Regions from separate parts of the Homo sapiens genome. Here region 2 is linked to region 1. Evidence: fine-mapped expression QTL. A gene starts in region 1. The other region holds a variant in brackets. All regions are shown on one strand. Distances are between the middles of the regions. Region 1 holds the start of GSR (glutathione-disulfide reductase). Region 2 overlaps GSR (glutathione-disulfide reductase).

What was found. PIP is the estimated chance that this variant, and not a neighbour inherited with it, causes the effect.
Region 2: its variant is fine-mapped to the expression of GSR in whole blood (INTERVAL, PIP 0.93).

What each region holds. Positions count from the first base shown.
Region 1 is chr8:30,722,969-30,731,297 of GRCh38, forward strand. It overlaps GSR (glutathione-disulfide reductase), which reads right to left and starts at 4,878. Exons shown (of 13, transcript NM_000637.5): 1 at 4,562-4,878. The coding sequence starts at 4,867. It also overlaps a transcript of UBXN8 not described here. RefSeq lists silencers at 1,335-1,394, 4,539-4,978, 5,049-5,138 and enhancers at 3,776-4,463, 6,226-6,750.
Region 2 is chr8:30,678,251-30,686,579 of GRCh38, forward strand. It overlaps GSR (glutathione-disulfide reductase), which reads right to left. Exons shown (of 13, transcript NM_000637.5): 10 at 5,838-5,949; 11 at 3,680-3,811; 12 at 2,654-2,787; 13 at 1-1,419. The coding sequence ends at 1,270. Among named protein-coding and RNA genes, the nearest start is that of GTF2E2, 24 kb to the left of the region's middle. The variant T/G (reference allele first, on the strand shown) is at 3,856.

The sequences.
Region 1 (8,329 bases):
TTCACTGTGACTTGGCAATCATGAACTTTTGTCACATGATCAACCCTTACTACCCAACTCTCATTGGTAAGTACTACTCGCCAAAACCACAGGAACCTGGTTATTCTTATCACAGAATCAGTACACTCAGCAGGAACCCAGGACCGCAAGTTCCCCAGGCCCTGGGGCAAAGGGAGCAGCAATTTAGAAACAACTTTTCCTTAAGCTGACTCTCCCATCACGTGTGTAGGCAGAGAAGCGAACCACAGAGGCAAAGCTCCCAGAAGGCTCTAATTCACCTTGACTTTGGGCGATCTTTGCATTTCTCTCCAGTCTACACGAGATCATGAGATAAGCAATATACTTAACCTTTTGGAGACTTGAAATGCTGAATTCAAGCAAGGCTCAGTGGTATCTACCTGCAGAACCAGCTAGTCGGGAGGTTGAGGTGGGAGGATCGCTTGAGCCCAGGAGTTTGAGGCTACAGTGAGCTGAGATCACACCACTGCCCTCCAGCCTGGGAAACAGAGGGAGACCCTGTCTCTTAAAAATGAAACAACATGCCAGACGCGGTGGCTCATACTTGTAATCCCAGCACTTTGGGAGGCTGAGGCGGGTGGATCACTTTAGGTCAGGAGTTCGGGATCAGCCTGGCCAACATGGTGAAACCTCATCTCTACTAAAAATACAAAAAATTTGCCAGGCGTGGTGGCCTGCGCCTGTAGTCCCAGCTACTTACGAGGCTGAGGCACATGAATTCCTTGAACCCAGGAGACGGAGGTTGCAGTGAGCCGAGATCACCCCACTGCACTCCAGCCTGGGTGACAGAGCAACAAACACACACACACACACACACACACACACACACACACCCAGGTCTGCTGGGACCTAGTACAGGAGACTGGTCCAAAACAATGGCCTCCCATAAACTTTAACGGTTGAACAATTAAATGAAGGAACACTGATAAAACAATGAAAAACCAACCAATCTCACTACCTGTAAATGACCACTGCTAGACACACATTCTAATTTGAACCTTCCGTGTGAGTTCATTCACCACAACTTTAAAACTTCCCCAAGCGTTAGAAATTAATGGATTTTATTTAGGAAAGAACTCATGGGAGAACCAATCTTAAACTTCTGCCGTGCACAGTGGCTCACGCCTGTAATCCTAACACTTTCGGAGACCAAAGCAGGAGGATTGCTTGAGTCCAGGAGTTCAATACCAGCCTAGGCAATGTAGTGAGACCCTATCTCTATAAACTGAAAGGAAAAGAAAAAGAAAAAGACAGAAAGACAAACTTCTATTGGGCATCGCCAAGGGTGAGATCTCAATCCTATGGCTTACCACAAAACTACTTTCACTGAGTCACTGGTTTGCTCAAACCCACCCCTGCCCCCATAGTTCACTGTGTGTCCAGAAACTCCACATTTTTCAAACCACAACCTACCCATCAGCTTCTCATCTCTTATTTCTATTAAAGAGACACTCTGTGCTCCAAATTTGATTACACAACATATCCCGTTTTGATGCCTAGGCCTGGGACCCATCTTTTGAGGTTCCGAATGTCAAAGAATACTACCCAACCCCCCACCTTTTTTTTTTTTTTTTTTTTTTGAGACAGAGTCTCACTCTGTTGCCCACACTGGAGTGCAGAGGCATGATCTTGGCTCACTGCAACCTCTGCCTCCTGGGCTCAAGTGATTCTCATGCCTCAGCCTCCCAAGTAGCATGTGCCACCACACCCGGCTAATTTTTGTATTTTTAGTAGAGACGGAGTTTCACCGTGTTGGCCAGGCTGGTCTCGAACTCCTGACCTCAGGTGATCTGCCCACCTTGGCCTCCCAAAGTGCTGGCGTGAGCCATCACGCCCAGCCTAGATGGTTACATTCTTGTGAGGTTCTTATGAGCCTCAGTAAATCTACATTTTACATAAGATAAAGTAAAAGTGAAAAGCAGGAGTAGAGGAGATAAGGCTATGACATGGGATTGTGAAATTACAGCTGTCTGTTTGGGAACAAAAGGAAAAGCAGTATTTGTGTGATTCAGTTCCCAAGCTGAACTTTCCTTCTGGCATACTTTGGGGTTCCAATATTTTTTTCTTTCACAACCACAAAATTCCTTAAGGGAAGGGACATGTCTCACAAATGTTTATATCTATCGTTTTCTCCCTACCCACCCCCAATCCCAGCACTTAAAATACAAAAAATGGGACAGGAGTGGTGGCTGATGCCTGTAATCCCAGCATTTTGGGAGGCCAAGGCAGGCCGACTGCTTAAGCACAGGCATAAGAGACCAGTTTGGGCAACATGGCAAAACCCTGTTTCTAAAAAACAATAAATAAAATAAAAACAGGCCAGGCGTGGTGGCTCACGCCTGTAATCCCAGCACTTTGGGAGGCTGAGGTGAGCGGATCACAAGGTCAGGAGTTCAAGACCAGCCTGGCTCTACTAAAAATACAAAAGTTAGCTGGGTGTAGTGGCACCTGTAATCTCAGCAATTTGGGAGGCCGAGGCAGGAGAGTTGCTTGAACCCAGGAGGCGGAGGTTGCAGTGAGCCGAGATTGCACCACTGCACTCCAGCCTGGGTGACAGAGCAAGACTCCATATCGAAAAAAAAATAGATAAATACATTTTAAAAATAAAAAATTAGCTGGGTGTGGTGGCTCATGCTTGTAATCCAAGCACTTTGGGAGGCCAAGGTGGGTGGATTACCAGAGGTCAGGAGTTTGAGACCAGCCTGGCCAACATGGCAAAACCCCATCTCTATTAAAAGTACAAAAACTAGCCGGGCATGGTGGCATGCACCTGCATTCCCAGCTACTCGAGAGGCTGAGACGGGAGAACTGCTTGAACCTGGGAGGCAGAGGTTGCAGTGAGCCCAGATTGCACCACTGTACTCCAGCCTGGGTGACAGAGTGAGACTCCCTCTCAAAAAAAAAAAAAAAAAAAGAATTCATAACAGGAAGGTAAAGTGGGTGAACCTCTGAAGCACATTATAACATAAGTAGAGAAAGAGGAAGACAGAGAAAATGTGGAGAGCAGAACAGAAGTGAGAAGTGATCAAGTACTCTCATGAGGTGTGGGAGGGGGGCACTTAGTGGCACCCCACAATCTGCCTTCTGGAGAGACAGATTTCTAACCTTCTGTCTGGACTATGGTGTCAAAGTGCAAGTTGATAATTAACAGAGATTTTTCCTTTCTCTTCATCTCCATGTTCATCTCCAAGGCACTGAACAATGAAGTCAACCTTTTCATAACTGTCCATTTTTAGTTTCATTCATTGCACAAGTGCTTATTGAGCAAGGGATTTTAAGGTGATAAGAGACACACAAACACAGAAGCCCATCCCTGTCCTTAAAGAGCTCCCAATTTGACATAATTTAAATATTCATCTCCAAAGGAATTTAGAGAACCTATCCCAAATCCCAGGTTCCTCTTGGATACAGCATTTTAATCGTCAACACCCAAATCTTGTGATAGAAAAGGGCGGGCACACCAATAACTTGGAAACAACATTTATTTTTAGAATGAGTGCAGTGGCTCAGGCTTGTAATCCCAGCACTTTGGGAGGCTGAGGCGGGAAGATCGGTTGAGTCCAAGAGGTTGAAATCAGCAAGGGCAACATAGCGAGACCCCCATCTCTACAAAAAATAATAATAATTAACTAGGCGTGGTGATTAGCCCCCTGTAGTTCCAGCTACTCAGGAGGCCAAGGTGAGAGGATCCCTTGAGCCCGGGAGTTCGAGGCTGCAGTGAGCTATGATGGCCACTGCACTCTAGCCTAGGTGACAGGGCAAGACCCTGTCTCAAAAAACAAACACAAACAAAAACCCTTATTTTCAAAAATTATGAATTTTGTAAATCTCAGGATTTACATCCCTCTGTTTTTAGTTTTGCAATCCACATAAAACCAAGACAAAACAAAAGCTCTGAGAACTCACCTACTCAAGGTCGCCTTGGCTGCAATTCAGATCACCCGAAAATCCCAAAGCCCAGGCTGCACTTCAGACCAATTAAGTCGGGAAACATCCCAAAGCCCAAGTGCACCTCAGACCAATTAAGTCGGGAATCCAGGCACCCTCAGGTGATTCGAATGTGTAGCCAAGGTTGACAACAACCGCTATAAATCATTCTGCCCTTGAAACGGGAGAACCAGGATCTACATTTTTCAAGAACCAGGATCTATGGCACCGTCACCCTCGTCCCTACACACAGGCCACCAGCAATGTTCCCAGATGCAGTTTTGTGTTTCACGCGGTCAAGAACAGAATCCAATCCTCTCCCACTTGGACAAGTGAGGATGGAGGAAGGTTAATCTAACCCGCCCCGGCCCTGGTCAATATCGCATCCGTGCGGAAGCAGACGCTGGCTCGGCTTTGCGGGCCGCAGAGAAGCCCCCGGACGCCTCTCTCTCCTCCACCTGCTGGGTTCCTGGCTTCGGAATGGGGAGTTGCGGGGGTGGAAAAGAGGAAAGCCCAGCGCCGGGGGACAGGATCGCCATAGGAACGAGCACAGGCTGTCCCCCGAAAGACCGAGACAAAGAGGCGCCCCCCGCCCGAACAAACCGGCGGTACTCACGCAAGTGCCACCCAGCTTGTGGCTCTCCACCACGGCGGCCCTGGCACCCAGCTCGGCCGCCCTGCGCGCGCTGGCCAGCCCGCCCGAGCCGCCCCCGATCACCAGGTAGTCATAGGAGGCCACGGCGCCAGCAGCGGGCGGCGGGCCCTGCGGCTGCGGCTCCTGCCTGCAGGCCATGGCACGGGAGAGGGCGCGCGTGAGGGCCGCGGGCTCGGGCAGAAGCAGCAGGAAGCCTCGGAAGGCGCGCGCCGCCCGCCGCCAGCTCGGTCCCGCGCCGGCGCTCAGGGCTCGGGGCAGCAGGGCCATGCACGCGGAAGTGGCGCGCCAAGTGGGGCGGGCGGCCCGGGGGCGGTCCCCGGGGTAGGGGGGCGCGGGCCCCGGGCAAGCGCAGCCTCACGGTGACTAAGCATGCGCCCGCCGCTAGGCAAGACCCAGGAGGATGCCCAGAGGCGGGGCCGCCTCCCAGTTCCCCGCCCCGGTGGCGGAGCCTGAGGGGTTTCTCCGCCTCCGTTCTCACCCCGGCCCCTGGATCCCGAGCGGCGCCTGCCGCGTGTAGCCTTCTGAAGTCCGGTGGATCGAGGCGAGGAACGGTGAACGTCCTCTCGTTTCAGCTGGCTTTTCCCGAGCTGGCCCCCTGGGGAGTTGCCAGTGGCACGGCTTCTCCAGGAAGAGAAATTTGCCTCTATTCGAAGGGTTGTTTGTCCAGGTTTGTTCCAGAGACCACTTTTGTTTGTTCTTGCTTTTTCTTTGAGACTGGGTCTCACTCTCCCCCAGGCAGGGGTGCAGTGATGCGATCTCTGCTCACTGCAGCCTCCACCTACTGTGCTCAAGCAGCGATCCTCCCTCCTCAGCCTTCCCGGTAGCTGGGAACTACAGGTGCCCGCCACAGCGCCCAGCTAATTTATTTATTTATTTATTTAATTTTTTTTTTTATTTTTTTTATTATTTTTATTTTTTTTTTAGAAATAGGGTCTCACTATGTTACCAGGACTGGTAGGGAACTCTTGGCCTCAAGCGATTCTCTCACCTCGGCCTCCCAAAATGCTAGGATTATGGTATGAGGTCACCACTTCTCCTGTTGTCCTTCTCAGTTTCTCCCCAACCTCCCCTTTTCCCTAGTTTATAAGACAGGAGAAAAGGGAGAAAGCAAAAAGTTGGAAAGAAACAGAAGTAAGATAAATAGCTAGACGACCTTGGCACCACCACCTGGCCCTGGTGGCTAAGATAATAATAATATTATTAACCCCTGACCAAAACTATTGGTGTTATCTGTAAATTCCAGACATTGTATGAGAAAGCACTGTAAAACTTTTTGTTCTGTTAGCTGATGTATATAGCCCCCAGTCACGTTTCCCACGCTTACTTGATCTATTATGATTTTTTCACGTAGACCCCTTAGAGTTGTAAGCCCTTAAAAGGGCTAGGAATTTCTTTTTCGGAGAGCTCGGCTCTCAAGACGCGAGTCTGCCAACGCTCCTGGCCGAATAAAAAACCTCTTCCTGCTTTAATCTGGTGTCTGAGGAGTTTTGTCTGTGACTCATCCTGCTATATTTCTTGGTTCCCTGACTGGGAAGCGAGGTAATTGACGGACAGTCGAGGCAGCCCCTTAGGGGGCTTAGGCCTGCCCTGTGGAGCATCCCTGCGGGGAACTCCCGCCAGCTTGAGCGACGCGGATCCTGCGAGCGCTCCTGGGTAGGCAATTGCCCCGGTGGAACGCCTAGTCAGAGCAGTGCGTGGCAGGCCCCCGTGGAGTATCAACGCAGTGGCTGAACACCGGGAAGGAACAGGCACTTGGAGTCCGGACATTTGAAACTTGGTAAGACTGGTCTTCGGAACTTGCCCACTCCATTTGAGTGGAAGCATGGCCTGATCACCCACGGCGTGCCTGTACTGGCACTTTGGTTTTTGTTTTTGACTTGACTTGAATTGCTTGACACTTTGGTTTTGGTTTGACCTGGCTTGGATTACTGGATACTCTGATTTTGGTTTTGATTCTGGTTTGGTGAAAACTGAAAAAGTGCGTGTGTGCCCTTTTTACCCATTCTTTGTTTTGTGGTGTGCGTTTGGTGTGAGCTTGGTGTTTTGTCTTGAGGAAACACGGGTCAGACACAAAATAAGCCTACTCCTCTAGGAACTATGTTGAAAAATTTTAAGAAGGGATTTAATGGCGACTATGGGGTTACTATGACACCAGGGAAACTTAGAACTTTGTGTGAAATAGATTGGCCAACATTAGAAGTGGGTTGGCCATCAGAAGGAAGCCTGGACAGGTCCCTTGTTTCTAAGGTATGGCACAAGGTAACTGGTAAGTCAGGACACTCAGACCAGTTTCCATACATAGACACTTGGTTACCACAGTGGGTAAGAGGGCAGGCAGCAGCAGTGCTAGTAGCAAAGGGACAGATAGTCAAGGAAGGATCCCGCTCCACCCACCGAGGGAAATCAACTCCTGAAGTTCTGTTCGACCCAACATCAGACGATCCATTGCAGGAGATGGCAAAAGTCATCCCAGTGGTGCCCTCCCCTTACCAGGGAGAGAGGCTCCCCACTTTTGAGTCCACAGTGCTTGTGCCTCCGCAAGACAAACATATCCCTAGGCCACCCAGAGTAGACAAGAGAGGAGGTGAAGCCTCAGGAGAAACCCCTCCCTTGGCAGCTCGTTTAAGACCCAAAACGGGGATACAAATGCCCTTGAGAGAGCAGCGGTATACTGGAATAGATGAGGATGGGCACATGGCGGAGAGGCGTGTTTTTGTGTGCCAGCCCTTCACCTCTGCCGACCTTCTCAACTGGAAAAACAATACCCCGTCCTGTACTGAAAAGCCACAAGCTCTAATTGATTTGCTCCAAACTATTATCCAGACCCATAACCCCACTTGGGCTGATTGCCACCAGTTGCTCATGTTCCTCTTTAACACAGATGAAAGGCGGAGAGTGCTCCAAGCAGCAACTAAGTGGCTAGGGGAACATGCACCGGCTGATTACCAAAACCCCCAAGAGTATGTAAGGACCCAGTTACCGGGAACCGACCCCCAGTGGGACCCAAATGAAAGAGAGGATATGCAAAGGCTAAACCGATACAGGGAAGCTCTCTTAGAAGGATTAGAGGGGAGCCCAGAAGGCCACAAACGTTAATAAGTTCTCTGAGGTCATTCAGGGAAAAGAAGAAAGTCCAGCACAATTCTACGAGAGACTGTGTGAGGCCTATCACATGTATACTCCCTTTGATCCCGATAGCCCTGAAAATCAACGCATGATTAACATGGCTTTAGTTAGTCAAAGCGCAGAAGACATTAGAAGAAAACTGCAGAAACAGGCTGGGTTTGCAGGGATGAACACATCACAATTATTAGAAATAGCTAACCAGGTGTTTGTAAACAGGGATGCAGTAAGCCGTAAGGAAAACCGCAGAGAGAATGAACGTCAGGCCCGGCGAAATGCCGAGCTGTTAGCTGCAGCAATTAGAGGGATCTCCCACAAAAAGGCAAGGGAAGGGGGGCCCCGGGAAAGAAACTCAGCCTGGCTGTCAGAGCTTGCAGCGTAATCAGTGTGCTTATTGTAAAGAAATAGGACATTGGAAGAACAAATGCCCTCAGCTAAAAGGAAAACAAGGTGACTCGGAGCAGGAGGCTCCAGACAAGGAGGAAGGGGCCCTGCTCAACCTGGCAGAAGGGTTATTGGACTGAGGGGGACCGGGCTCAAGGACTCCCAAAGAGCCTATGGTCAGGATGACAGTTGGGGGTAAAGACATTGATTTTCTTATAGATA
Region 2 (8,329 bases), 45 kb before region 1:
TCATATCTTTCTTCAAGGAGTGGTTTTCCAGGAGGTTCCCAGCCTCCTCAAATCTTTCCCAAGTTTGATGCACTTCACCTCATAAAAATAATATATATATATATATATATTTTTTTTTTTTTTTTTTGAGACAGGGTCTTGCTCTGTTGTCCAAGATTGAGTGCAGCAGCATGATCAGGACTCACTGCAGCCTCACCTCACCCAAGCTCAAGTGATCCTCTCACCTCAGCCTCCCAAGTAGCTGAGATTACAGATGCACATCACCACACTCGGGTAATTTTTTTTACTCTCTGTAGAGATGCAGTCTTGCTATGCTGTGCATGCTGGCCTCAAACTTGTAGGCTCAAGTAATCCTCCTGCCTCGGCCTCCCAAAGTGCTAGAATTACAGGCCTGAGCCACCGTGCCTTGCCACAAACTATTTTTAATCATTAAAAAAGAAAAAAGAAAATAAGGCAGGCCGGCTTCTCACATTACATGCTTTTAGAAAAAGGTCTCATCCTTGAAGCAGCTTTGTTATATGCAGAGCACAGTACTGGCTTCAAAAAATATATAAAGGTTCTGTGCACTGGCACTGTTTACATGTGAAGAATTGCCATCAACTTCTGTGAAAATTAGCAAGCTGGCACAGTGGCTCACGCCTGTAATCTCAGCACCTCAGGAGGCCGAGGTGGGCGGATCACCTGAAGGTGGGAGTTTGAGACCAGCCTGACCAACATGGAGAAACCCCATGTCTACTAAAAATACAAAATTAGTCAGGCATGGTGGTGCGTGCCTGTAATTCCAGCTATTCGGGAGGCTAAGGCAGGAGAATCACTTGAACCCAGGAGGCAGAGGTTGTGGTGAGCTGAAATAGCACCACCGCACTCCAGCCTGGGCAATGAGAGCAAAACTCTGTCTCAAAAAAAAAAAAAAAAAAAGTAGCAAGTTCTATTCATTCAAGTACATTAAGTTAATTGTACTTCACAAAGCTTTATATTTGGGATGAGGCTAAAACAGAAAAAAAAAACTAGCACAGAGCTGTTAATAAAAAAAAAACTTGAAAATATTAATTACTGTGAGATGTGATCAAATGAAAATCAATCCTGGATAACACTACAAATTTCTAACTCCATAAATAAGTTCTATTATGTACTAAAAATTTCCACTATCAGAAGATCCTGATTAAAATAAAGAAATACATAAAACTCAAACAGTAAGTCAATGTGATTATTTGTTTCATTTCAGAAGATCTATGGGTCCCACTGCCCGCCACACGTGTCTCCTGGTTCTCAACGAAGTGTGACCAGCTCTTCTGAAGAGGTAGGGTGAATGGCGACTGTGTTGTCAAAGTCTGCCTTCGTTGCTCCCATCTTCACTGCAACAGCAAAACCCTGCAGCATTTCATCACACCCAAGTCCCTGCATATGGATCCCAACCACCTGGGAAAAGAAGAGAAACATTTTCTTTTCTTTCTTCTTTTTTTTTTTTTTTTGAGACGGAGTTTCACTCTTGTTGCCCAGGCTGGAGTGCAATGGCATGATCTCGGCTCGCTGCAACCTCCACCTCCCGGGTTCAAGTGATTCTCCTGCCTCAGCCTCCCGAGTAGCTGGGATTACAGGCGCGCACCACCACGCCTGGCTAATTTTGTATTTTTAGCAGAGAGAGGGTTTCACCATGTTGGCCAGGCTGGTCTTGAACTCCTGGGCTCAAGTGATCCACCCACCTCAGCCTCCCAAAGTGCTGGGATTACAGGGGTGAGCCACGGTGTCTGACTGATATTGTGATCTTAATTGAACTTATAAAGAGCCTCTGGTGATGGCCAGCTCTTCATATTATTCCTCTCTATATAGCAGTTCTTAGTCTTGAGAAGAATGACAAATAATGTTTATCAACTGAATGAATGATAACTGGCATGAAGAAATAACTAAGTAGGAGCCTTCATGATTCAATATCCAGAAATCATAGGCTACTGAGGAATGTTCATGGCACCACCATGCCCGGCCAATTTTTGTATTTTTAGTAGAGATGGGGTTTCACCATGCTGCCCAAGCTACTCTCAAACTCCTGAGCTCAGGCAATCCGCCTACCTTGGCCTCCCAAAGTGTTAGGATTATAGGCGTGAGCCACAGCGCCTGGCCCTGGCCTCTCCTGTTTTTTTTTTTTTTTTTTTTTTTTTTGCTTTGAGATGGAGTCTCGCTTTGTCTCCCAGGCTGGAGGGCAGTAGCATGATCTTGGCTCACTGCAACCTCCGCCTCCCAGGTTCAAGTGATTCTCCTGCCTCAGCCTCCCGAGTAGCTGGGATTACAAGCACGCACCATCATGCCTGGCTAATTTTTGTGTTTTTAGTAGAGACAGGGTTTCACCACGTTGGTCAGGCTAGTCTCAAACTCCTGACCTCAGGTGATATGCCTGCCTCGGCCTCCCAGCGTGCTGGGATTACAGGTGTGAGCCACCACGCCTGGCATCGTCTTTATTTTTTAAAAGGAGTGGAACCTCCTTCTAGATGAAATATTATGAAGAACCCCAAAATGCAGGTAAGACAGATCAAAGTGGGCCTGTCCAGTTGAATCAGAAGGCTCAACTGCTTGGTCTCCCTCCTTTCCACCCCTGCAAAATACTGCCATCCCTGTCCATTTTGCAAGGCACTATTTAGTTTGCTGGATTTTTCCTTACCTTTTCTTCCTTGTTAGCACAGACCATTTTCATCACACATTTTGTTTTCCTTTTGGTAACTGCGTGATACATCGGGGTAAAGCTCGTTGAATAGGTCTTCACATTTTCTATTCCATATTTATGAATGGCTTCATCTACAATGCACATTAAAAAAAGCATCTATCAGAAAACTAAACAATTACACTGAACTATCAAAGAGGGAGATGACCAGAAATACATAACCTCAATCAAACCACGAGGAAATATCAAACCACGCCAAAATGAGAAGTATTCTACAAAATAAATGTCAGTGTCATATAAGACAAAAGAAGGGCTGAGGAATTCTGCCTCTAGATGAAAAGAAAGGCCAGGCACAGTGGCTCATGCCTGTAATCCCTGCACTTTGAGAGGCAGAGGCAGGTGGATCGCTTGAGCCCAGGAGATTGAGACCAGCCTGGGCAACACAGTGAAACCCCATCTCTACAAAAAATTAGCCAGGCATGGTGGTGGTGCAGGCCTGGTAGTCCCAGCTATTCGGGAGGCTGAGGCAGAAGAATTGCTTGAACCCAGAGGCGGAGGTTGCAGTGAGCAGAGATCGTGCCACTGCACTCCAGCCTGGGTGACAGTGGGAGAGCTTGTCTCAAAAAGAAAAAAAAAAAGAAAATGATACTCGGTTTATGTAAGGGCCAGTTCTTAGGAAAGATAGACATGTGTGTGTGTAGAGTGAAAAAATAAAAAAGCAAAAATATTAAGGTTAGAGAGGAGTCCTTTGTATTATTTTTAGAGCTTTTCTTTAAATTTAAAATTAGTTCAAATAAAAAAGCTAAAAAAAAAAGATCAAAGAGATAGGGTGGTGTGAAGGAAAGATACTGTACACTCAAAGTAGTAGCAGGGGAGAAAACTGGAACTGTGACAAGAGAGTAACCAAAAAGCAATGTAATCTGGGGCTGAGATAGGTTTCATCAGCTGACAGAGACCTAATTTAAAGTTGGGGGCAGGGGAAAGAGGAAGGAAACCACAAATGACCTTCAGTTTTTAAATACCTACCTTCCGTGAGTCCCACTGTCCCAATAGGGGGGTGGCTGAAGACCACAGTTGGGATGTTGTTATAATCTAATTTGGAATCTTCCTTATATTCAAAAAGTCGATGGGCAAGTTTTCGGCCAGCAGCTATTGCAACTATGGAGATATTTTAAAATCAGTGTTTATCTTACTGTCTGTTT[T/G]AACATAGCTAAATTGTTCCACTAGCCATTTATCCATCTACCTTAATGCCCTAGTTCTGACAGTTTCACACCATTGTTCATTACACTATCTAGATAGTTTAATACAGCGAAGATATGTCATGCCTCAGCGAACAACTCAAAATGATTGGCTTATGAGAATCCTATACATTCTATTACAGGTTGAGCATCCCTAATCCAGAAATTCAAAATCCAAAATCCAAAATGTTGGAGCACCATGATGCCACAAGCAGAAAATTCCACACCTGACCTCATGTGAAGGGTTGCAGTCAAAAACGCAGACAAAAGTATGCCTCATGCACACATTTAAAATATCGTATAAAGTTACCTACCAACTATGTGTATAAGGTGTATGTAAAACAAATGAATTCCGTGTTTCGACTTGGGTCGCATCTGCAAAATATCTCATTATATATATGCAAATATTCCAAAATCTGAAACTGAAAACACTTCTGGTCCCAAGCATTTCAGATAAGGGATGCTCAACCTGTCTGGCCCCACTCCCAAAAGACACATTCACAAGTTCTCACTTACCTGGCAGTTAATCTACTTAATGAAGATATTAGCTTTTTAATACAATATTTATGGAACAAGCTATATTAGTTTTCAGCATCTTTAGTTCTATTTTATAACCCTAAAGTGCTGGAATTACAGGCATGAGCCACTGCGCCTAGAATCTTTATTATTATTATCATTATTATTATATTATTATTTTTTTTTTTTAGACAGAGTCTCGCTCTTGTTGCCAGGCTGGAGAGCAGTGGCGCCATCTCAGCTCGCTGCAACCTCTGCCTCCCGGGTTGAAGCAATTCTCCTGCCTCAGCCTCCCAAGTAGCTGGGACTACAGGCGTGTGCCACCACGCCCAGCTAATTTTTGTATTTTTAGCAGAGATGGGGTTTCACCATGTTGGTCAGGAAGGTCTCGATCTCTGGACCTCGTGATCTGCCCACCTCGGCCTCACAAAGTGCTGAGATTACAGGCGTGAGCCACCGTGCCCAGCTGAATCTTTATTTTTTTAATACAGACAACATCTCACTATGTTGCCCAGCCTGGTCTCAAACTACTAGACTCAAGCGATCCCCCAACTTCAGCCTCTGAAAGTGATGGGAGCCACCACACCTAGCCAAGAGCAAGAACTTTCTAAAGGAGCTAAAAGGGTTTGGGTGTGTGACTGGTGTAGGTTTTCATCCTGATATAAGGCCCTGGGACACGCTGGAATCGCTGATGAGGTTCTAGGTACAGACTGAAAGTAGATCAAGTGATCATTAATGGATAGAGATGGGACAGAGCTTGCAATGGTGCTTAGGAAGCGGGCTGAGGTGTGGGATGCCGGAGAGAAGGAAATCAGTCTTGGTTGTATCAAGACCAGTCATACAAGAATGACAATCTAGGCCATGTGTGGTGGCTCATGCCTGTAATCCTAACATTCTGGGAGGCTGAGGCAGGCAGTCTGCTTAAGCACAGGGGTTCAAGACAACATGGTAAAACCCTGTCTCTACAAAAAATGCACCTGTGATCCTAGCTACTTGGGAGTCTGAGGTGGGAGGATCACCTGAGCCCAGGAAGGTTGAAACTGCAGTGAGCCCGTGATCATGCCACTGCACTCCAGCCTGGGTAACAGAGTGTCTCCAAAAAAAAAAAAAATGCCAATCTAAATTACTTCTTCCAAATGCCACTTCCTTCCACTGCCACCAAGCACAAGTCTGCTCCTAAGAGAGTTCCGCAACGGGTGATCATATTGTCTACATGAAAACTTCAGTCTGTGCTAAGCATTTTAAGTCTTTTATTCAGATAATGTCAGGTATCCAACCAATATCTATTTCAACACATTGTACCATTTTGACAATATAAAGACACTCATCCTTTTAACTTTGCTTAAGCAGACTGCAGATTTGACAGTGAAGAGCCAGATGGATCATGTAACACGCAGACCCTCCCTCACCAAGAAGGGAAGAGACCTTACCTGGAGTAAGAAGAGCTTTTCCACATACATCCCCAACTGCATAGATGCCTTTGACGTTGGTATTCTGGAATTCGTCTACGATGATATGACCCTTGTCATCGGTTTGAATCCCCTAAAATTACAAAGAGATATCATGTAACCACTTGGCCCACCTACTAAAAAAGGTAGATCAAACCTCTGGATCTCCCTTCCTCATTTCACATGGGAACTGCAGCCAGAATCTCCAAGAAACCATGAGACTCAGCTGCAACACGAAAGGCATTTACAGCTGGCAAGTTTCAAGCTGGGTACAGTGGGCCCACACCTGTAACCCCAGAACTTTGAGAAGCCGAAGAGGGAGGATCCCTTAAGCCCAGGAGTTTGAGATCAGCTTGGGCAACACAGTGAGACCCTGCCTCTGTTAGAAATTAGAAAAAAAAAAGTTGGCAAGTTTCATATCTTGCTTAACATAAAAGGTAGTATTTTATCCACTTTTGAGATGTTTTAACAGGATTTGACATTGCAATGTACAATTCAACTGGCCAGGCAGACATGAAGAGGATCACTCAACTATCAGGTGTGCCACTTGGAATCCCTCTGGAGTCCAGCTTTTCAACTTGTCCCATGGAAGCACTGCTCCTGAGGAACACTGACTCAAGCAGTCACCAAAAGCATATCTATGTTTATTTAGTTTTTTTTTAGAGACAGGGTCTCGCTCTGTTACCCAGGCTGGAGTGCAGTGGTGTGATCATGGCTCACTGCAATCTTGACCTCCTGGGCTTAAGCAATCCTCCTGCTTAGCCTCCCGAGTAGCTAGAACTAGAGGCATGTGCCATCACACCTGGATAATTTTTTAACATACATTTATTTATTTATTTATTTATTTATTTATTTATTTATTTATTTATTTATTTATTTATTGAGATGGAGTCTCGCTCTGTCGCCCAGGCTGGCGCGATCTAGGCTCTCTGCAAGCTCTGCCTCCCAGGTTCACGCCATTCTCCTGCCTCAGCCTCCCGAGTAGCTGGGACTACAGGTGCCCGCCGCCACACCCAGCTAATTTTTTTGTATTTTTAGTAGAGACGGGGTTTCACCATGTTAGCCAGGATGGTCTTGATCTCCTGACCTCGTGATCCACCTGCCTCGGCCTCCCAGAGTGTTGGGATTACAGGCGTGAACCACCACGCCTAGCCTTTTTAACATTTTTTTATAGAATAGGTCTTGCTGTTTCCCAGGCTGACCTCAAACTTCTGGCCTCAAGTGATCCTCACGCCTAGGTCTCCCAAAGCACTGGGGTTACAGGTGTGAGCCACCATGCCTGGCCAAAAGCACATTTCTATGAAGCTTACCATTTTGTCTTTAAAAATCCAAGCAACTTTTGCACTCTACTCTAAAACATACTGATGTTTTTTTCAGACTCCCAGAAGAAAAGTAAAAGCAAAACAAAACAAAAACACATATTGATGTTTCCCTTAACCAAAAATATTTTCCTATATGTAGTCAAATTTTTGCTTTAAGAAGACATGTTATGCTTATCATGTGGCTTTGCAAATCCTAAGTATATATGAGAAGTAGAGATATGGCAGAAGTAGGAAGTAAGTAGCCACAGAGCTTAAGAGTACAACTGGCCAGGCGCAGTGGTTCAGGCCTGTAAATCCTAGCACTTCGGGAGGCCAAGGCGGGCGGATCACCTGAGGTCAGGAGTTTGAGACCAGCCTGGCCAACATGGTGAAACCCTGTCTCTACTAAAAATACTAAAAATTCGCCAGGCATGGTGGTGCATGCCCACCTACTTGGCAAGTCCCAGCTACTTGGGAAGCTGAGGCAGGAGAATCACTTGAACCCAGGGGGCGGAGATTGCAGTAAGCTGAGATGGCACCACTGACTCCAGCCTGGGCAACAGAAAGAGACTCTGCCTCAAAAAAAAAAAAAAAAAAAAAAAAAAAAGAGTACAACCTTTGGTACAGACAGACCAAAATTCAAATCCTAGCTCTGCAACTTACCGGTTATGAGACCTTGTATAACCACCTGTTTATCAACAAATATTTAAGCTTCTATTACAAATGAGACTTTGACTTCATCACTGAGAATACCATGGTAAGACAGACATTCTCCCTACACCATAGAGTTTACAGCCCAGTAAATTATCTAGTATCTCTGTGCTCCTGGCTTCCTTATACCTTGCCGGTTGTTGGCAAGATTAAATTAGATTAGTAACATGTTGACAAGACCTAGCACATAGTAATCACTCAATTTGCATTATATAAATATATCTTAATGTCAAATGAGACTGAACCTTTTTTTTTTGCCTCATTCTTCAAAAATTTAGCAAATATAGGCTGGGTGCAATGGCTCATGCCTGTAATCCCAGCACTTTGGGAAGCTGAGGTGGAAGGATCGCTTGAGCCCAGTTCAAAATTAGCCTGGGTAATACAGCGAGACCTTGTGTCTACAAAAATTTTTTTTAAAAATTAGCCAGGTGTGGTGGACCACGCCTGTAGTTCCTACTACTT